Regions from separate parts of the Homo sapiens genome. Here region 2 is linked to region 1. The links come from fine-mapping of genetic effects on gene expression. A gene starts in region 1. The other region holds a variant in brackets. All regions are shown on one strand. Distances are between the middles of the regions.

Region 1 (5,389 bases):
GACTGGGGGAACTGTTATCATATGCACTTGCCATAGTATAGCAGGCTCCTTCCTCAAACCAGCCTCTCCAGTCAACAGGTTCTGGGTCAAAGGACAGGCTCAGATCTGGAAATTGGCCATGACTCTTCAGTGAAGTGTTGGCATTATTCTTATGTGTCCCTGTATCTTGCCCTTAATAACACTGTGGTCTAGTAACCATCTCCACAGCTCTCTTTGGGTGAGGACTCCTGGCTGCCACTCCAACCTTTCCATTCATGATAATAATTGCATCCTTCTTGGTCTGCTACCTATAGTCTACCACCCAGCCTCTATCAATCTGGGATCTTACCATCCCCATTGCTGTTATATAGAAGCCCACTGCTGTTATATAGAACCATCCCAGTTATATAGAACCCCGGCACAATATACAGTATCAGCCCTCCCCTAGAGGGGGTAGCCACCATTGAGTTTCTCATTGACACATTGCCCCTCTCACCAGCTCATTTCTTACAGCTTTGGTAAAAGGTTGCCTTCTGGGTGCCCCTGTGAAATACAGTGAACTGGTAGATTGTTCGGTCTTACAAAGTACAGTAGGCCCCCATTATCTGTGGGAAATACATTCCAAGGCCACCCCACAGGTGGATGCCTGAAAACGCGAATAGTACCAAACCCCATATATATGATGTTTTTTCCTATACATGCACTGTGGCACTTTTGCAGTTTGAGGTATAACCACAAAACTAGCATAAATTTATTTGTCCTTCTTCACAATTTCACAGGTAAAAAATTTGTTCTTACCATGGATCTTAGCAACCTCAGCATATAATTTTTTTTCCTTAAGAACTTTTACCTTTTCACTTAAAGGAAGCACTTTACGGCTTCCCTTTGGCATATTTGAATCACCAGCATCACCACTCTTGTGCTTTGGGGCCATTATTAGGTAAAATGAGGGTGCCTTGAACACAAGCACTGCGATACCTCGACAGTCCATCTGATCACCGAGATGGTGAAGTGGCTAACTGGAGGGAAGTGTTGACAGTGTGTATCCACTGGACAAAGGGACAATTCACATCCTGCGGGGGACAGTGCAAGACTTCATCACACTACTCAGAACAATGTGCAATTTAAATCTTACAAATTATTGATTTCTGGAATCTTCTATTTAATATTTTCAGCCCACAGTTGACTGGGGGTAACCAAACTGTGGAAAGCAAAACCATGGATAGGGAGAACCAGTGTACAGTTGTCCCTCAGCATCCATAAAGGATTGGTTCCAGAACCTACCTTGGATACCAAAATCTATAGATACTCAAGTCTGTGATATAAAATGGCCTAGGATTTACATATAACCTACACACACCCTCCCATACACTTTAAATCACCTCTAGATTACTTATAATATCTAATATCATGTGAATGCTATGTAAATAGTCACTATACTGTATTGACTAGGGAATCATGACAAGGAAAAAAATGTCTGTACATGTTGAGTATGGGATGCCACTTTTTTCCCAAATGCTGAATATTTTCAGTCCGAGGTTGAATGAACCCACAGATACAGAGAGCTGACTGCATATCCACCGTAGCATTCCTGCTTCTCGGAGCCTTTTGATCTCTTTCTTCATCATCTGCTAAGGCATTTCTCACATATCTCCTCCACATAGTTGATCATTGCATTTCTAAGAAAGAAAAGAGTCAACAAAGATACCCCAAGAGTCAACCAAGAAGAGTGCTAAATTCTCTATCTCAGGGGAGTGCTCCCACATAGATAAAGTTTCCAGTATCCAACTATATATTGCATCCTTCTTAACCCAGGCCCTTCAGGATTCATCCCATATATATTCTTCCACTCCTGCTAGTACTTGCTGGCTCAGTCTTGCATCTTCTTTGGTGTCTATTTTTTCCTTCCTTATCACAATCAGCACTTCTCCTGTCAAGTTTTATTGTACTTGACTCTAGTTCAGGGTCTGCAAACTTTGCCTGTAAAGAACCCGATAGTAAACATTTTTGGTTTTGTGGGCCATATGGACTTTGTCGTGACTACTCAGTTCTCCCATTGTAGCATGAAGGCAGCCATAGGCAATGTGTCGTTGAATGGATGTGGTTGTATTAAACTAAAACTTTATTTACCAAAATAGACTGCAGGCTGGATTTGGCCAGGAGACTGCAGTTGCTGATCCCCATTGTATTTACTGGCCTAGTGTCCAGGAATGGAGTTGGGATCAACCCTGACTTAAGAACACGCTATCTTGCAAGAAAAAGCTCCTGCACTCTCTTCAAGCAAGGGTAGCACTAGCTTTTAATAGGGAGCAGTGGGCCCAGACGGTTGAGGGGAATCTGAAGATTCGAGATTTTTGGTGCAGGAACACATATATCCTTATTCCAAGTCTCAGCATCTCACTCCTTCCTAGTCAGGGTCCTGACCTTGGCATAGCACACTTACTAGGATTGAAAATTTTAACCTTCTCTGGAGCCCTCCTGGCCTTATAATTAAGTTCTAGGCTTGATCCTGGCTTTTTTCTACTTCTGGCTGCGGGAGATGAGAAGCTCTTTATAAACTGCCATAGGCCCTCTGGCTTTCACACTTAGCCTTAAATTGGTAATTAATCATTGTATCCTTTCATCCCCTTTCTCTAATTCATTTTATAGCACTCAGAAACAGCCATCCAATTCTATTGTACTTACAATTACCACTTCCCCTGGACCCCTAGATATCTCGGATACTAGACTTACCAATGCATTGCCTTCCAGCAGTTACATCACAGTGACTGTTGCAACAATTGCATAGTTACAGCCTGCCAGGGGCTGTAGGTAATCCACCCACCCACCCCTAGTTATGGTGTCCTCCCTGCTGGCTGGTCAGCTGGTGACCCAGTTCCAGATTCCATTTTAGAGTCTCCTTCCTCGGACCATTCCTAGCACCAGTGGTTTTAGGAATGCTTACCTGAGAAATAGGGTCTGAGGTGGAGATATACATGCAGGACTTTTACTGGGGAGTGCTTTTAGGATCAATACCCATAAAGAAGAGAAAAAGGATTCCATAGAGGGAGAAATTGAATTATGATTCTGTTGCAGTAAAGGCCTTCAGCAATCCCATGGACTGCTGTCAGAGTTGTCTAGACAAGGCAAGGGGCCAGCCAGCCACAGGATGCGTGCTGCCCCCCAAACCCCAACTGCAGAAGGGGTAGGGCCTTGGGCAGGGCAGCTCTCTTCTGCTAAGGGAGGGATTCCCAAAGACAGACTCATTTGTGAGACAACAAAAGCCAGCACTCCTGGCAGCTGGGCGAATGAGTGCCTGAGTCCTGGAGGGGAGATCGGGGCTGCACACCACCGCATCCACTACAAGCATGTGCAGTGGTTGAGTTCATGTCCACAGTAAGCGTGTCAGATAGGCATCCATGAGCCCAGCTTTACTGACACACCCTAGTTACCAGGAATCCTGGGAGAAGCCTTGGGTTCAACTAATTGTTGCGATTGTAATTGTGGTTCCTGAAGGAATTCTAGATGATAAACGCAATAAAGTAGCAGTGATTTATTGTATATAGAAACTTTAAAACCCACTTTTGAAGGGTAAAATAACAAGAAAGAGGAAGGAAAGAATAAAGGAAGGAAGGAAGAAGAGAAGGAAGGAAGAACGTAAGGAAGGAAGAAGGGAAGGGGAGAGGAGGGGAGGGGAGGAGAAAGGAGAAAAATCAAGTCCTCTCAACTCACTAGAGCAGCCATATCTACTTAACTGGAGACAGGTATTATAAAAAGTTATTTTTCTACTTCCCTGCCTTTTAACAGACAACATTTTCTGCTTTTTGGCTGGGGAGAGGACATTTGAAGTACCATGAAGCCAAGTTTGTGACAGTGACAAACTTAAAGAGGTTACAATTTTGAAATATGTAAGTATTTAAGTTGGAATCAACAAAATACCTATTAATGTGTGTGACATGTACAGATGTCCAAATAAATGTAATTTATTTCCTATAAAGTCAGAATAATTGTGTAGGTAGAGTTAGAAAACATCATTTTAAATTATTTTGTCATTGAAGCTGCAAATTATTATAAAATCCCACAGAAATTGATAGTTGAAATGATTTTGAGATTCTCAAGTATTATCATAATACTTGCATAATTTGAAATTCTGATGAGTTCCTCAGAAGTTTATTTCCAAGTACCTGTAATCTTTTCATGTTGTTCAACATTAATTCATAGCCAGGACTTATCTTCAGGCAACTTTACGGCTTGTTCCTCTGTGAAATTCTGTAAGTTGGAGATTATAAACATGAAAACAATCAGTTGGGGCTCTTTTTGGCAGATTTTGAAATGTTGCCATTTGTTCAATTTCTATCCCTATAAACGTAGCAGGTACTGGATCTTATTGGTATCCAAAACATATCATCTCACCTTACATTTATTCTTCAGGAAATTAGGCTCATAGCTAGGTGGATTTTCAACAAGTTAAATATAAACTTTCTGAACCCTCATTATTTGTTGATGCTATTGAGTTCATCTTGAAACACACACACACACACACACACACACACACACACACACACACACACACACACACATTCCATGTGTCTAACTCCTCCTCCATCCCTCTTCAAACAAAATGAACATTAGGACTTTAAATTGCAGGCAACAGCCATAATCAGAAAGCCAGAAGCCACTGCTCCAACCCTGAGGTCCTCTAAAGTTGATTGCAAGGCAGATACTAGGCAAAGATCTCTCTAGATCCTTAGATGTCTGCTTCTTGCTCATGGAGTTGAAAGGATGAAATGAAAGGGCGTGGGCACAATCCCTAGCTTGGTGCTGGCACAGAAGCCCAATAAGGTCCACAATTCCTCATCTACAGTCCCAAATCCCGGAGTTCTGAACACTGAAATATTTTTTGTAAATCCTTTGGCATCAAAATCTGGCCAGAGAGAAGGCTATTTCTAGGCCTCGGTATGAGTGGAATATGTCCCTCTCTAGAAGTATAAATGTGTTTGATTATCAGATGGTCCTCCAAGTCTTATGGAGCTCTGACAGTATCTACAGTATATGCACCCCAATAAATTCCTAAAAGTCCGAACATCTGAGTCTCTAAACACCTGGCTTGAAAGGCTTCTAGCTGGGAGTCTGTGGATCTGTCCTTGGTGGCTCTCTTCTCCTTCCCTTTTTGTTGGTCATGGCCCCTCTCCTTCCTCCCTGGCCATCATTAGTCTATCTGAAATAAAAACTACACTTGGTCAGACATCCTCTTGTGTCAGCACCTGTTAGGCACCTTATCACATATTTTTTGGAAAGCCTGGGATGACCCTGGAAGGGATTGGTAATGAGCCTCATTTTAAAGATAAGGAACCTGACATGGAGAGAACTTAGTGAAGGTCAAGAACTCCCATGCACAGAACTAGGGTTGCACCCCAGTCTCTGGCTACTC
Region 2 (5,389 bases), 46 kb after region 1:
ATCACTCCAGGAAGAAGACACATGTAAATACATGTCATTCCCTAACATTACAATGACATAAAGCTTAATTCCTGCTCTTGCAATCCTAACTCATAAAAACATACCAGTTCAAACAAGCCCTGTTAAGAATCCTCAAATTCATTCATTTAAGAGATTATTGAGAGATATGTGTCTACCATGTTGAAGGCACTGCCACAGAGCTATGGATATGGCAATAACAAAAGCAGCAAAGTTTCTAGAAGAAGACTAGAATTGTTAGTGAACTATCATCTGAGCTGTGGTAGGGTACCAGGGTGAGGCTGATCTCTGGATTCAATTCCAGTAGCCCTAAGACAAATCAAAACTACCTTTGCCCTTAGATGCTCAACTATACAGAAGTTTATGTACATACAGATTCTGTGACTTTTAATATATTTTGAATAGTAAGGCAATTTGTAAATTACAATTCCTTTTTATAAAAATAATTTTAATCCAAGTTTAAATGAGTGCAATAGCATATTTTAAAAGGGGGGAAGTATACCATTTTCCTTCCTCTTTGTTCTTTCAGCCTCAACTAATGCTCTGGAGAGTCACTGAGCTACCAGTTGTCCAGGCTGATGTTATTCCTGCAGGTAGATTTCCTGTCTGTCAGAAGAAATGAACTTTTGGGGATGGTTTATGCATCCATTAACTCTACCCACTCTTGAATCACTGAGCAAATCTGTTTTCAGCAGGACCATATCTGGCACCAGGTTTGCATACCCCATGATTCCACATCTATTAAAATACTAAGTGCATAGCTAAGAAGCAGATATCTGTGGCAAAATCTTGCCACAGATATCTGCTTAGTGGGAAAAGATTTTGCACCAGAGAGCAAAAGCTATATGGCAAAGGAAATATAAGGTTATTAAAATGCAGTCTGTTTTCTCAGAATAATATAGATTTGCTGCAAATTGGCACAGACAGGCTAAGCTACTGTTCAGTTTAATGGGACCATGAAGATGACAGAAAACATTTTAATTTCTGCTCTCTATGCATATTGAATAATTATTTAAGGATGCATTTGAACTGTTTGCCCAATATAATTCTAACAAAAATCAATGAAAAGCTATAATGGAAGGATTTGTTATTTTCTTTTAAACATTAAGATGGAATAAATGAACAGTTCATAACTCCTGGCCTCAAACAATCCTCCCACCTTGGCCTTCCAAAGTGCTGGGATTACAGGCATGAACCACTGCGCGAGGACAAAAAAATATTTTTTTGAATGAATAGTACTTTGTACAGATGCTGGAACTTTGTTCTAATATCATCTTTAGGATTCATGTCTTGGAAATGACACCATATCCATATTTGTTTACATATTTTTTATTACTGCTTAAGTAAATGTCCCCAAATTGTAAAAGAGCCTAGTATAATACTAAATTGTCACTATAGAGATAATGTTAGAACAAAGACTTCATATAACTTAAAGTGTTTTATAGAGATTACTATGAAATAACTAAAAACTCTCTTTAGCATTTAAGGAAGGGTCTTATCTATTTTCCACAGGGGACTTCAAGTGGACACCATCTATCCACTAATTTATTCATTTATTCAATAAAAAGTTATTAAGTTCCCCCTTTGTGTCTTGCATCACACTAAATGTGGAAAATACTGTTATCAAAAACTTGAATGCTGGTAGCACTATTCCTCTGTGTCTATAGATAAACACTATTTGCTGGAAAGAAAGAAAAAAATATGCAATCTTTGACTATCTTCCATAGTCATAAGAAAACACTCTTAATTATATTACATTTTTCCCTTTTAAAAAGCTTCATATAATAGTTTTTTGGGACAATAAATTTCATCATTACTTACATTTTTATTAACACAATAAATTATAATTGATATTTGAATTGTTATAATCACAAACAGAAATGAGAAATTCATTGTGTACAACCTGAAAATAATATCTAACCAAATGGGTTTGTAAAGAGTAATAAGTGTTTGAGATTAAAAATAAATGTTCAGATTGGGCTGAATAAAATTTAATCGAAATATATATGATTTAAAAAGAAAATGTAAGTTCCAGGGTGAAAAAAAGATGTCACTCCACATCTTTTCTTCTGGACCAAAAACAGGTGCTCCCTGGGAGTTTAACAATAGTTTTAAATTGCCCAGTGATTAATTCTGAGTACCATAGGAACTCACATTTCTATAGTCTTCCAGTGAGTTTACCATTAATTTATGTCACCACAGTTCAATTTAGGTTATACAGAATTAGATAATTTGTCATGAGACGGGACATTTGATGTCAACTTTTCAAATTCCCTTATTTTATAGGTGAGGAACGTGAAATCCAACTTTTTGCAGCTAGTATGAGGCAGAGCCAAGACCCAAGGCCAGGACTCTGGGTTTCCAATACAGTTCTGATCCTTTAAAATGTGTGCCCTCTTCAAAGGGTGAATACATTCAATGATATTCTTTGAAGAGACCACATGGCAATTCAGAATGAGAAGGAGCATTTCATGTTCCTCACTCCTTCCTAGAACCAGAAGAGATGAGGTGTGATTGACCAATACCAACGTGCCATCATGCAGGACCAACCCTTTCCAGGAAAACAGAGCACTTCATGTGCAGAATCCAAATACTCAGCAGAAACCAAGATCTACGCTTAGTGGTTGGTTGATGTTTAACACAGGTGTCATCTGCACACACACACATACACACGCTGAGTTGCTACGTAATGAAACTCTAGGTTTTCCCAGAGAGCCTTATTTGGAAAACACATAACTAGAAAAAAGATCTCCTGTGAATGCTGGGCAAGGCTTGGGGAACAGATCTTTTCCATGGTGTGTAGCTGTCTTCCCACCATCCTTGGCACTGATCACCATGCAACATAAGGCCCAACTAACATAAAAGGAAATGAAAATACCTAAGGCTTCAAAACATTTTGAGTTTGTACTAAGTTCCTAAACAAACAATACAAGTCTTCTGTGACTGACGCTCAACTAAGGGA[G/T]AAAATTCATTACCAGTAGCTTTATTAATATTTCCTCCTTAGTTTCAGAGAGACCATGCACTTTCCAAGTTCAAAAGGAAATAGGTTCTTTGGTTCATCTTTCTATCCATCTCCCCTCCCTCTCGCCAGCCTTCCAGCTTTCTCTCACACTCTTGCCTTCACTAAGGAGTGAACTCACCACACACTCCAGCCACAAGATAAAGACCATTTAAGAGTCACCCCCGATGACCATCATCCCCAACTTTCCATCCTCGTAGCCAGTCCAGTTCAAGTAGTTCCCAGGGAGAAGTCACTACAAGCCCCAGCCTCTACATGGCCATGCCATCTATCAAATGGGCTTTGCTCAAGGATCTGTAACTGTAAATGACTCCCAAAAAAGCCCCAGCAGATGCCATCTGGTTAAGTTTTCCTTCTTACGGAAAAACTAGTCAGGTGTTTTGATGAAGGCCATTCTCCAATCAAGCAATTCTTTATCAAAGAAGCCTAAGCCAGGGCAAAGTCCTTTTTCAGCAGCTGAAGAATTTCTGGTTTTACCTGCCAGTGAAACTCTAAGGGAATAAAACATGGAAAGATGGCTCCTTAGATAAGCAAACTCACTTTGTCCACAGAAAGGAGCTTTGGCTTCTCAGTAGAATTTCAAACCAACATCCCTTCTTTCTTCCTCCCTGTCCCTATTAGAATACAATTTACCATATACATTGGGAGGTCTGGCCAAATAAGCCCTTCATGCAGTTCCTGCAGCTGTAGTTGTGAGACACCCAGGGCACTGTTTAAGCAGCAGCTGTGTGGGCCTTACTGAAGAGATGGAGATGGAGCAGGCCTGGGTGAGGCTCAGAAATCTGCATTTTAACAGGTGTCCTAGATGATGCTGAGGCAGGTGTGTCTTACCTTAAGAGTCACTGTGAGAAATACCCTTGATAAAGTAACACTGAATTCCTGTCCTACAAATAAAGAGGAGGGAGACTTCTGCTTCTGGGCAAGACGGTGTGAGAGGGAGCTGATATACCCAACCCACCTGAAACAAAGAAAATCTATGCAACAACGATTTTCAAAACTCTGGGCATTAGGCAAGGAAGGACAGTGACTCCTAAGGGATGAGAAACCAATAAGGGAGTTATGTGATCACCCAGCTCGCTGCCTTGAGTGTTTCCTGGCCTGGGAGCAGGGGCAGCAACCCAGGTACCACCTGGCAACTCCCTGAGTTGAGGAGACATTGCTGAGGGTCCAAAAAGGAGATCCAAGGGGCCAGAGTTTGCAGGACCCAGTGCCAGAGAGTAGAGCACAGTACAGAGGGAGATAAAGGGAGAGGTCTGATGTGGGGGATTCCTGGAGTCTTCAGCTGAGGCTTTGCTGGCACAGGCGTGTGAGGAGCCCGGAGGCCAGGAAAGAGCCATCAGAAAGGACTAGAAGGAACAGTGTCTTTGGCCAAGAATGACACCTAGTCCCACCAACTAGACCGAAAAACTTCAAAATTCACAGACATGGGTAGAATACTCAGAAGGGTCTTGCCTCAGTAGCAGAGAATAATCAGTCCTAAACTAAATGCGGCTCTGGTCCTAACAAGTCTTAAAAGCAGACCTTAGGCCGGGCGTGGTGGCTCACGCCTATAATCCCAGCACTTTGGGAGGCCGAGGTGGGCAGATCATGAGATCAGGAGATCGAGACCATCTTGCCCAACACGGTGAAACCCCATCGCTACTAAAAGTACAAAAATTAGCCAGGCCTGGTGGCATGCGCCTGTAGTCCCAGCTACTCAGGAGGCTGAGGCAGGAGAATCACTTGAACCCAGGAGGCAGGGGCTGCAATGAGCCGAGATAGCGCCACTGCACTCCAGCCTGGGCAACAGAGCGAGATTCTGTCTCAAAAAAAAAAAAAAAAAAAAAAAAAAAAAAAAAGCAGACCTTAAAAGGATCAAACTGATTTTAAGTGATTCAACCGCCAACTGTAGGATACAAAGTGGTGAGTTTTGTTATGAACAAAATAACTCAGTCAAACTGGGATGTGAAGCAGTTCACTTATTTTACTTTTATGTGTATCTTTTAAATTATCATGTACCTTTGTTCCCTTAAAAAATATAGTTATCAAAACAATGTTTAAATATTATAAGATTTGTCTTTGTGTAGTTTAATGCCTGCATAATGGAATTTCTAATGCACTTGGCTGGCAGTTTCAGAATGCAGCACACAGTATTCTCCATTAGGGGGTTCTGTAAGACTAAGAAATAGGACACTCTTGTGCTCTTTAAAAATAGATTGTAATTCTGTAAGACAGAACATGTGCTAGCAGCCTGTTTCATCCCTTTCACCAATAGTATCTTTGAGCACTAGAAAAAATAATGCTGCAACAAAATGAATCTTGGCATAGAAGAAATACTATCTCATTATCATTTAACTTCTGTTCGTTTTAATA

Which allele goes with the higher level. Alleles are on the strand shown, and positions count from the first base shown. SD is a standard deviation of normalised expression in the study named.
With allele G in place of T in region 2, the expression in prefrontal cortex of the gene that starts at base 2,679 in region 1 is lower (large effect, 0.81 SD a copy in GTEx).

The links.
Region 2: its variant is fine-mapped to the expression of LINC02150 in prefrontal cortex (GTEx, PIP above 0.99). The same link has a PIP of 0.9 or more in nucleus accumbens.

What each region holds. Positions count from the first base shown.
Region 1 is chr5:16,438,424-16,443,812 of GRCh38, forward strand. It overlaps LINC02150 (long intergenic non-protein coding RNA 2150), which reads right to left and starts at 2,679. Exons shown (of 9, transcript NR_104625.1): 1 at 2,665-2,679; 2 at 1,463-1,658; 3 at 830-1,052.
Region 2 is chr5:16,484,241-16,489,629 of GRCh38, forward strand. The region is part of intron 3 of RETREG1 (reticulophagy regulator 1); the gene reads right to left. Among named protein-coding and RNA genes, the nearest start is that of ZNF622, 21 kb to the left of the region's middle. The variant G/T (reference allele first, on the strand shown) is at 2,981.